Regions from separate parts of the Homo sapiens genome. Here region 2 is linked to region 1. A link means that fine-mapping ties the variant in region 1 to the expression of a gene that starts in the linked region. Tissue or cell type: whole blood. Region 1 holds a variant in brackets; the other region holds the start of a gene. All regions are shown on one strand. Distances are between the middles of the regions.

What was found. PIP is the estimated chance that this variant, and not a neighbour inherited with it, causes the effect.
Region 2: it holds the start of CSF2RB, and the variant in region 1 is fine-mapped to the expression of CSF2RB in whole blood (INTERVAL, PIP above 0.99).

What each region holds. Positions count from the first base shown.
Region 1 is chr22:36,952,241-36,957,500 of GRCh38, reverse strand. It overlaps LOC124900478 (a long non-coding RNA gene), which reads left to right and starts at 2,841. Exons shown (of 3, transcript XR_007068091.1): 1 at 2,841-3,853. It also overlaps the pseudogene CSF2RBP1. The variant GA/A (reference allele first, on the strand shown) is at 2,565.
Region 2 is chr22:36,911,038-36,916,037 of GRCh38, reverse strand. It overlaps CSF2RB (colony stimulating factor 2 receptor subunit beta), which reads right to left and starts at 2,410. Exons shown (of 14, transcript NM_000395.3): 1 at 2,361-2,410. RefSeq lists an enhancer at 3,876-4,577.

The sequences.
Region 1 (5,260 bases):
CAGCACTTTGGGAGGCGGAGGCAGGCAGATCATCTGAGGCTAGGAGTTTGAGACCAGCCTGGCCAACATGGTGAAACCCCGTCTCTACTGAAAATAGAAATATTAGCCAGGTGTGGTGGTGTGCGCCTGTAATCCCAGCTACTTGGGAGGCTGAGGCAGGAGAATAGCTTGAACCAGGGAGGTGGATGTTGCAGTGAGCTGAGATCGTGCCACTGCACTCCAACCTGGCAACAGAGCGAGACTCCGTCTCAAAAATAATAATAAAAACATAAAAAAAAACTAAAATAAATGTGTGTGGCAGCTGCCTCTGCACTAGTGCTCTCTCTCTCTCTCTCTCTCTCTCTCTCTCACTTGTACCAGCTTTCACTGTGTGACGTGCCTTCTCTCTTCACCTTCTGCCATGATTGTAAGCTTCCTGAGGCCTCCCCAAGAAACGAAGCAGATGCCGGTGCCATGCTTCCTGTACAGCCTGCAGAGCTGTAAGCTAATTAAACCTCTTTTCTTTATAAATTACCCAGTCTAAGGCATTCATTGATTTACAGCAATATGAGAATGACCTAATATGGAAAATATCCTACTCTCAGTGCCAATTTTCTGTATTAGGTCATTTTCATGCTGTCATAAAGAAACACCCAGGACCAGGTAATTTATAAAGAAAAGAGGTTTAATTGGCTCACAGTTCTGCAGGCTGTACAGGAAGCATGGTGCTGGCATCTGCTCAGCTTTTGGGGAGGCCTCAGGAAGCTTCCAATTGTGGCAGAAGGTGAAGGGAGAGCAGGCACGTCACAATGAAAGCAGGAACGAGAGAAAGAGAGAGAGAGATCAGCGTAGGGGTAGGTACCACACACTTTTAAATGACCAGATCTCCTGTGAACTCAGAGTGAGAGCTCACTCATCCCCAAGGGGATGGCCCAAGCCATTCACGAGGGATCCCCCAACCATGATCCAAACACCTCCACCAGGCCCCACCCCCAACATCGGGGATTACATTTCAACATGAGATTTGGATGGGGACAAAAATCCAAACCATATCAATCAGTTTGATCTTTTAAGGTTTGTTTTTAAGCTTCCTTAGAGGACTTTTATTATTATTATTATTATTATTATTATTATTATTATTATTGAGATGGAGTCTTACTTTGTTGCCCAGGCTGGAGCGCAGTGGTGCAATCTCTGCTTACTGCAATCTCCGCCTCCTGGATTCATGCAATTCTCCTGCCTCAGTCTCCCAAATAGCTGGGATTAGAGGCACCTGCCACCACGCCTAGCTAATTTTTGTATTTTTAGTAGAGATGGGGTTTCACCACGTTGGCCAGGCTGGTCTCGAACTCCTGACCTCAAGTGATCCACCCGCCTTGACCTCTCAAAGTGCTGGGATTACAGGCATGAGCCACCATGCTGGCCTAGAGCAGTTTTAGAATGGCCCTCTCCTGGGCTGGTTTAGTGCTGGCACTAAGGTGTTTTTCTTCTTGGTTCTCTACTGAATGTGTGAGGTGTTCAGTAAGAATTCCTATTCTGGCTTGTTGGAACTTGAACATCTCCCAGACCTTGGTGAGTTCTGGAAATTGTTCAGATACATCTCTCTGTGTACTATTTACACAGTCTAGTGGAGCTCCACCCCACACATGCATGGTTTAGTGTGCAGCAGTACATGCAAGAGGATCTCTGTGTAGATTTGCTGGGTCTCTTTCTCTGTGCAGCTCTTTCTTCTCTTGTTTTCTACACCAAATTCCAGCTTCTTTTGCCTCTTCAGACTCAGACCCCTATCGCCCAACACAGCAAGACTGCCATGGTCATGTTGGAGTTCTTTTACCTACGTCACAGTCAAGAAAGTGGTAGAAAGGTAGAAAAAGGTAGGCACGGTGGTTTATGCTTGTAATTCCAGCACTTTGGGAGGCCGAGGTGGGAGGATCACCTGAGGTCAGGAGTTCATGACTAGCCTGACCAACATGAAGAAACCCCCGTCTCAACTAAAAATACAAAATTAGTTGGGTGTGGTGGCGAGTGCCTGTAATTCCAGTTACTCGGGAAGCTGAGGCTGGAGAATCACTTGAACCCGGGAGGCGGAGGTTGCGGTGAGCCGAGATCACGCCGCTGCACTCCAGCCTGGACAACAAGAGCGAAACTCCCTCTCAGAAAAAAAAAAAAAAAAAGAAAAAGAAAAGAAAGGTAGGATGATCATAGGACCTACCGTGTTTGTTTTCACTCTCTGAGCGATCATATAGAAGGACTCCTCTTTTCTAACAGCTGAAAACAGATTTTTAATATCGTTTGTCCAGTTTTATACTTCTAAAGTAGAAGGCTATACCTGGTCCTAGTTACTCCATTATGGCCAGAAGCAGAAGCCTCTTCTCCCTCTGCCCATGCCTGTCTTTTGCCCCTCCTCCTCCACTTGGAGCCATTTGGCCCATTTGGGTGTTGACTTTGATGCAAGTCAGGGGTGCCTGCATTGGCGTCTGTGCATGTGGTTGTGGGTGTGTGTGTTTGTATAGTGCCTGGGTATACGTGAGTCCTTAAGGTGGAAGTGGGGCATGGGAATGGGGTGCAGGGGAAGTGGGCTGTGG[GA/A]ATGGGGTCCAGTGGAAGTGGGGTGTAGGAATGGGGTGCAGGGGAAGTGGGGGATGGGAATGGGGTGCAGGGGAAGTGGGGCATGGGAATGGGGTGCAGGGGAAGTAGAGGTGTGACGGAAGTGGAGAGGTGTGAAATAGCTTCTTGGGAAGGGCAGAGTTCCTCCTTGCTGCTGGGAAGTGTCATTTGGGGTTCTGGCAGCGTTAAGAGCCTCCCCACAACCCCCGCCTCCGATGGTAATCCTGAATTTAAGTGAGACCAGCTGGTGTGGTTTTGTTCAGCTGAGCATGGCCAGGGCAGGAAGACTGAGAGTTCACCATTTTCTGTACCGAGAAGCCCTGCTGCCTCCTCAGGAACTCCATTCCTATCCTGTCCTCCTTCCTGGCTCGTTCCCAGCATCCTCAAGGTCTTGTCAGCGCCCTCGTAGGGTGGTCAGGTCCCATCAGGGTTGTCTGAGCATGTGTGTGCAGGTATGTGTAGGTGTGTATGTGGGTGTGTGAGTGGGTGGAGGCTTGCGTGTTTCATGGTTTCAGAAGTGTTGAGAAAGAAGAAAAGAAGACCTCTGTCTTTTCTTCTGACATCACAAAGGGCAAGAAACTAAGAAATGCCTCAGGCTCCTGCAGAGAAGAAGGGATGGGCAGTAACAGCTTGGGGCAGGTGAGGAAGGATGGTGGAGTGTTTGGTGTTGAGTGAGGTGGCCCAAAGGGAGTCTGTGCATCCTCAAGACCTGGGAGGAGACAGGCTCCATCTGTGGTGGGTGGATCCACAAAGCTTATCTGCCAAAATCACTTGAAGAGCTTAACGCAGCCCACTTGGGCATCAACCCAGTAGCACCCAATACAAACACACAGAATCTACACCAGCACTGCGGGGAAGGGTGAGAGTGGCAGAGGAGGAGATCCACACTAGGTGGAGAAGGCGCAGGACCAGGCTCCCCGTACCCCCAACATGGCCTTCTCCCTCCTCATCGGCCATATCCCTGGGAAGACGAGAGGGGTGGATGGGCCTTATCCTGGCCCACATCTCCTTTCTCAAGACCTGGGGTAGGATGGCAATTCATGGATGGAGGAATAACAAGACCTGGTGAGATCAGCTTGGCCTGGCTCCCAGCTGGGCAGGAACACAGGACTCCAGGGCATGGAAGACCCCACCCCAGCCCATGGCCAGCATCCACCTGTGCCAGCACCTGCCTGTCCAGAGCTGACCAGGAAAATGGTGCTGGCCTGGGAGCTGCTCCTCATGGCCCTGCTGGCCCTGTGCTGGGGACTTAGCCTGGCAGGGGCAGAAGGTGAGTTCCGTGGCTCCCACCCCTTCCCTGCCCCCTCCTCACTGCTGCACCCTGGAGGAGGCCCGCACCATACCCCCAGGACCCTGCCCACCCACCCTCCTCCTGCTCCCCTTGCTTCGTCTCTTCCCCGGCCTTCCCTGGGCTTCCTTCACTTCCCTCCTCCTGCACATTCCTGCTCATCCTGTCCTGGAAAGTCCAGCTGAGTGTGTCTGGGTTCCCAGCCCATATTTCTCAGCACGGCACTCCAGGCCCCCAGGCTCCAGGGTGGCTGCTCTGACCGTTTCCCTTCTCCTCCTTCCCCAGCAGACACTCGCTGCACCTCAGTGGTTCCACCTCCAGACCTTTGCTCCAGCAGCGTCCTGGCTTGGGGTTCATCTCAAGGCTGGGTTGATGCCTGGGGGTCTGGGGGGCAGGGCCTGTCGCTGCTGCGTGTCTCCATTCTGCAGGGATTGCACGGTGCTTCTGTCAGGAGAGGAGGGTCCACAGGCAGAAGCTCACCCTGGCAGACCCCCTTCCCAACCCAGGGCACCTCTGCCCCAGATCAGCTGGGGGTGGTGGTGATAAGGGACCCTGCAGGGGAGAGAGGTGACCCCTTCCTGCCCCTCTTGTCAGAAACCGTCCTGCTGCAGACCCTGCGCTGCTACAGTGACTATACCAGCCACATCACCTGCGGGTGGGCAGACACCCAGGATGCCCAGCGGCTCGTCAACGTGACCCTCATTCGCCGGGTGAATGAGTCTGTGACGTTGGGTGCAGGGGCCACGGGTAGGGGCTACGGTGTCCCCTCTGCCTGGCGTGGGATGGTGGTGTAGAGAGGGATGTGTCAGGTCAGCCTCGGGGTGGGAGTAGACAGAGGACAGAGGAGGACGGAGGCCCTCCCGGGAGCTCCTGCTCAGCCAGGCACCTGCCAGGCACTACTGTCTGATCTGGGGTTTCTGGGGAGCACGTTCTACACTGATGTCGTTGAGGATGGTGCTGGTAACAATGGTGACAATCTTCTCTTATTTTGTCACAATTTAACACAGTTGCCCCACATGACCTATCTTAGTTCCTCCTCACTGCGAGGTGGGCAGGGCCAGGCCACGACGCCCAGTTCACAGATGGGGAAACTGAGGCCCTGGAGGTGAGGCGCCAGCCCTGGCCACAGATGGGGAGTGGCAGAACAGGCCGTGTGGACGTGTTTGGGAGGGGGCTCCATGCTCTCCCAGGCTCCTCCTCTGCATGTGGGCTGCCACCTCTCCCACCCGAGCTCTCCTGGGCACGAACCACACAGGAAGGGGACCGGCATTGCTCTGCGGTGTTGGCCAGGGTCTGAATCAGCCTTAAATGAAATAATTAAGCCACTGGAACCAGAGAGGCAGGTGACAACTGATTGGAGGTCTCCCCACCTAGAGGGGGAGGGGGCCC
Region 2 (5,000 bases), 41 kb after region 1:
GAGAATATATTTTCAACATATATAAATGGATTATTAATACACGTAATAAATGAGTCACTCCAAAAGTTAAGATGTAAAAGAGAATTCAACAGGAGATGAACAAAAATTTCTCCACATTCATCATAAATGAAATCCAAAAGGCCAATCCACATATAGAAAATGTACAACTTCACCCATAATCAGGGAAAGAAAAAAATCACGCGACATTGAGAATTTCCATACATAATATTGGACAAAATTAGAAGATTGATAATTTCTCTAAAGGTAAATTGGACCCTTTATGCACTACCTTGGGGACGTCAGCTTAGCTCAGCTACTTTGAGGCTGATTTGACAATACCTATTATAATTTCTAACGCACAACCTCTGCACAGCAATTCTGCATTTAGTAATTTAGGCTACAGAAACACTTTCACAGATGTGGAAAAATTAGAAACAATCTAGGTGTCGATCAACGTGAGATTAGATGAATTGTGGTGTACCCATCCTAATAAATGCCACATATTTCTTAGGGTTACTTAACGAGTTAAATCTGTATGTATTATTGTAGAAATTTGGAAATATTCCAAAATACAATATTAAGTGAAAAAATTAGGAATATATATATATATATATAAATAAAATAATCCCATTTCTGTAAAAAGAAAAACTACCATCCTGGCACAGTGGCTCAAGCCTGTAATCCCAGCATTTTGGGAGGCTGAGACAGGCGGATCATCTGAGGTCAGGAGTTCGAGACCAGCCTGGCCAATATGGTGAAACCCTGTCTCTACTAAAAATACAAAAATTAGCCACGTGTGGTGGCTCATGCCTGTAATCCCGGCTACTCAGGAGGCTGAGGCAGGAGAATCACCTGAACCCGGGAGGCAGAGGTTGCAGTGAGCCAAGATTGCACCACTGCATTCCAGCCTGGGCGACAAGAGTAAAACTCTGTCACAAAAACAAAACAAAACAAAACAAAAAACAAACAGGAAAAGAAAAACTATATGCTTGTATCATGCTTAGAAAATGTTCTGGAAGAATACATGTGGTGAAAAGAATAAGCTATGGAACTAGGGAAAAGAAATTGCTGGGGACTTTGTCTCTTGTGCTACATAATTCTAGATTATTCTAATTTTCATGAAGGTAGGTTTCTGTGTAGTTGCTTGTTTAGCATTAAATACATTCCTTATACAACTCATGAATTATCCTGTGGTGTTGGTATATCTGTATACTGGAACAATATAAATAAAACTGCTGGATGAAAAAAAGAGTGACCAAAAGCTAATAGGAAATGTTTACTCATTATAAAATGATTACAAAGCAGGAAAGATGATAGAAAAAAATTAGAATTGGGCTGTACAAAAATATAACAGCAGGGTTTTTGAAGACTAAAAATTGCACATATGCAGCTTGTCGCTAGCACCTGTCTGACAAGGTCCCAGTGAAACACCTGCCCTTTCATTCTCAGGGCCAGTACACACACCTGCACACACCCTGAAGCAGGCACCCCAGATACCCACCCACCCAGCCAGCATACTTGGGTACAGAACACACACACCTGGGCCCCAACCCAAATCAGCAACCCAAATCAGCAGGGCAGAGTGTCATAACTAAAAAGACAGACAGACAGAGAGAGAGACTGAGAGAGAGAGAGAGAGAGAGAGAGATTGCTGGATAGTGCCTGGTATGTCTCTGGGCAAAGTGCTGGGCTCTTTCTCAAGTTCAAAGTGAGCTTCTCAAGCCACACCGCACCCAGCTCTGGGCCTCAGCGCAGCAAGCTTCCAGGTTTCACCCTCTGCCTCTTAGTCTCTCTGCACTCCTGCATCCCCAGACATCCGCACATGCACATACACACACAGGCACACACACAAATGCACACACGGGCAAACACACGAGCATGCGTTCTCTCTCTTTCTAAACCAAGATGTCAGGGACTATCCATGCTCCCCATTCCACAGATGAGGAGACAGAAGCCCAGGGTGGACAGGGGGTGCTCTCACTACCACCAGCATCTTAGTGACAAAGCGAAGACAGACTATAGGTGCCTGACTCCCAGGCCTGAGCTCTCTTCACCCCACTAGGCGTCCTTCCCACCAGGACCAACCAGATCCCGCTAGCGAGGCTGAGTCCTCCCCAGAGCTCTCCTACAACACCCAAGCAGCTTGGCACCCCTGGCTGCCTCCCCATCCACTGGCCGCCCTAGGAGTCTGGGCTCAGGTCATCCTAAGAGGCCAAGCCCTAACTCCTCCAAGTCCCCAGGGCACAGCTACCCACAGGACGCCCCCCAGGCTCCCCCTGTCCTTTTTCATCCTGGACTCCCCACATTCCCCCCTGCTCTGACCCCACCCCTCAGCCCTGCTCCTGGACGCCGGGCCATACCTCTGTGTGGTGGGAGAGACCAGTCTTCTTCTGGAGCCTCTAGGCAGAGTGAGCCTCCCACGTTTCCTATTTATGTTGATGTCATCAGGAAACAGAGAAGCAGAAAGAGGAAGCAGTGCCGGCCCAGGCCTACTTTGCTAATAGTGCACGTGACTTTTCTTACTTCCAGAAAGCCTCCTACTCCAATTTACCTTCCTATAAACTCCTAGGCCTCCTTCAAGCCTCAGCTGACGCAGGGCCTCCTCCATGCAGCCTTCCCTGACTGCTTGATGGGGATGCAGGTGGAAGTGGCTGCAATAACCATAGCTGGTTTGAGCCCAGAGCCAGACAGATCTGTGTTGGACTTCCAAGTCCACTGCTTCTTAAAGCGTGTCCTTGTGCAAATCATCTGCGTGTTACTTCCCCAAGCCTCGGGACATCCATCTGTCTGTTACTTTTGCAGAAGCATCTACAAACCTGGAAGGACTGTTGAGGGAATCCAGTGAGATTCTGTGCAGGAAGACCTTAGCTCAGAGCTGGCCACAGGAGAACCCCCTACAAGTGGTAGCTGGTGGCATGTTGATTTCCCCGATGTCCTCTTTGCCCTGCCGCCCCACCCCACCATGTGTCATATGGTCATGTGTGTTCATGGCTGTCTTTCTTCTGACACTATCTTCAGTGCTGGCTTGTGTCCGGCTTGCACTTCCCTCCCAAATACCTAGCACATGGCCTGGTACAGAGGAGAAATTGCACCTTTGACTGTGTGCAAATGAATAGATGAATGAATGAATGAATGAATGAATGAATGAATGAATGAGTGGCTCCCTGAGCACAGCAGGGCCAGCAGAATTAAGGTCAGGTGAGTGAGGCAGTCTCTCGTGCTCAAAATTTAAACAGGCATTTAAAAATTCAGTAATTGTTGTAAGTAATATTTTAATGCAATATGGTTTAAAAAAATCCCAACTGATGCAGAAACTATTCACGGTGAACCAAATATGAAAAGTTTGAATAAAGACAAGATGAATCACAGTGCCAAGACACAACAAAACGCAGTCATATTTCTCCTACATGGGGCTGCCTCCCAGGAGAAAGGGCAGCAGGCAGGAATGAGGGGAATGGAGGGCAAGAATGAGGGGAATGGAGGAAATGGAGGGGCAGGAACCTGCCTCGAAGCCACTGGAATTCTGGCCTGATTGTTGTTCTTTGCTTTCCTCCTACCAGGAAGGGCAGGGTTGGCCAGGAAGAGCTGGCAGGGCCTCACCCTAGCAGAGAAAGCCCAGGGTAGAGGAAGGCATGTGTGGTTCTCTCAGGCACTCCGGTCAGTGTGAGGTCCCTGCCTGGCATGGAAAAACCCTGCAGGGGCTTCTCCAGGGCTGGAGAGGATGGAATTAAAGTGACGTCCCGGGCTCTCTTTTCTCCCAGGTGTCCCCACTCTGCCTGTCTTTGCTGAGGTCCTCTGTGGGACTGGGAGGCTGCGGGCCTGGATGCCCTCAGGAGCACAGAGGATGCTGTCTGGTGGAGAAACGAAGAACCCGAGACTCTGAGTCAAAATCACTCCGGACACCAGACCCAAAATGTGAAGGAGCTTTAGGAACACCTCAGCCAATTCACTTGACTGACCCTTTCCTTTTAAAAGTCATCATAGAGCAGCAGGGGATAAAAATCTACATTTGAATGAGTCTAACAGAGTTCTCTCAATAAGTATTAAAAGTTCTAAGCGAGAAGAATCACACCGTCAGGAATTCATTGAATGTTTTCGTTTGTTTGTTTGTTTTTTCCTTCAGTGGTATGTAAAATACCGTGTCTTGCAATTGACGATCTTTTAGAGACTAAGAAACCCAAGAAAATGTTGGCAAGAACGTAGTACTCATAATGACCAGGGCTTGAGCATTTACGCTGTGAGCAGACCTTCGGCTGGGGGCTTCTCCATCTCTTCCCAATAACCTTTATGTAGCTGTTACTGTCTTCACCTTACAGATGAAGAAATTGAGGCATGAAAAGGAAGATAACTTGTTGAAAGTAGTAACTCGTATATGTTAACATTGCATTTTTTTCCATTTCCATTTTTATTCTGAAACTATTTCAAAATACAGAGCGTTAAAGGAATGATACAAAGAACTCTCACATACCCTTCATGTGGAAACCCCCTTTGAGTTTCGCTAAGCTTCTCAATAATGGTTTTGTAACAAGAAAATCCATCCGGGACTTTGCATTCTCTCTAAATGCATGGCTCTTAGTTGCCATGTCTTTCGGGCCTCCAGTTTGAAACAGATGCCTTGTTTTTTCCTCGACATCTCGAAGACTGCAGGTTGGTTGTTTTGAATAATGTCCCTCGATTTGGCTCTGTCTGATGATTAGAACTGGGTTATGCTTTTTTGGCCAAAATAGCACAGAAGTGATGCTGGATTATTCTTGGTGAGTCCTATTAGCTTTCATTGTCAATCTGTCCCATCACTAATGTCGTTCGCTCTGATCATTTGATTAACTTGACACCAATCAAGTTTCTCTATTGTAAAGTTACTTCCCCTTCCACATCGTAATTTATAAGCATTTGGTAGGGAGATACTTTTAAGCTTTCTCATCCCACTCCCACACTTGTATAATTTCAGTATGCAATGATGTTCCTTAATTTAATTAAACATTATCATGATGATCATTGCC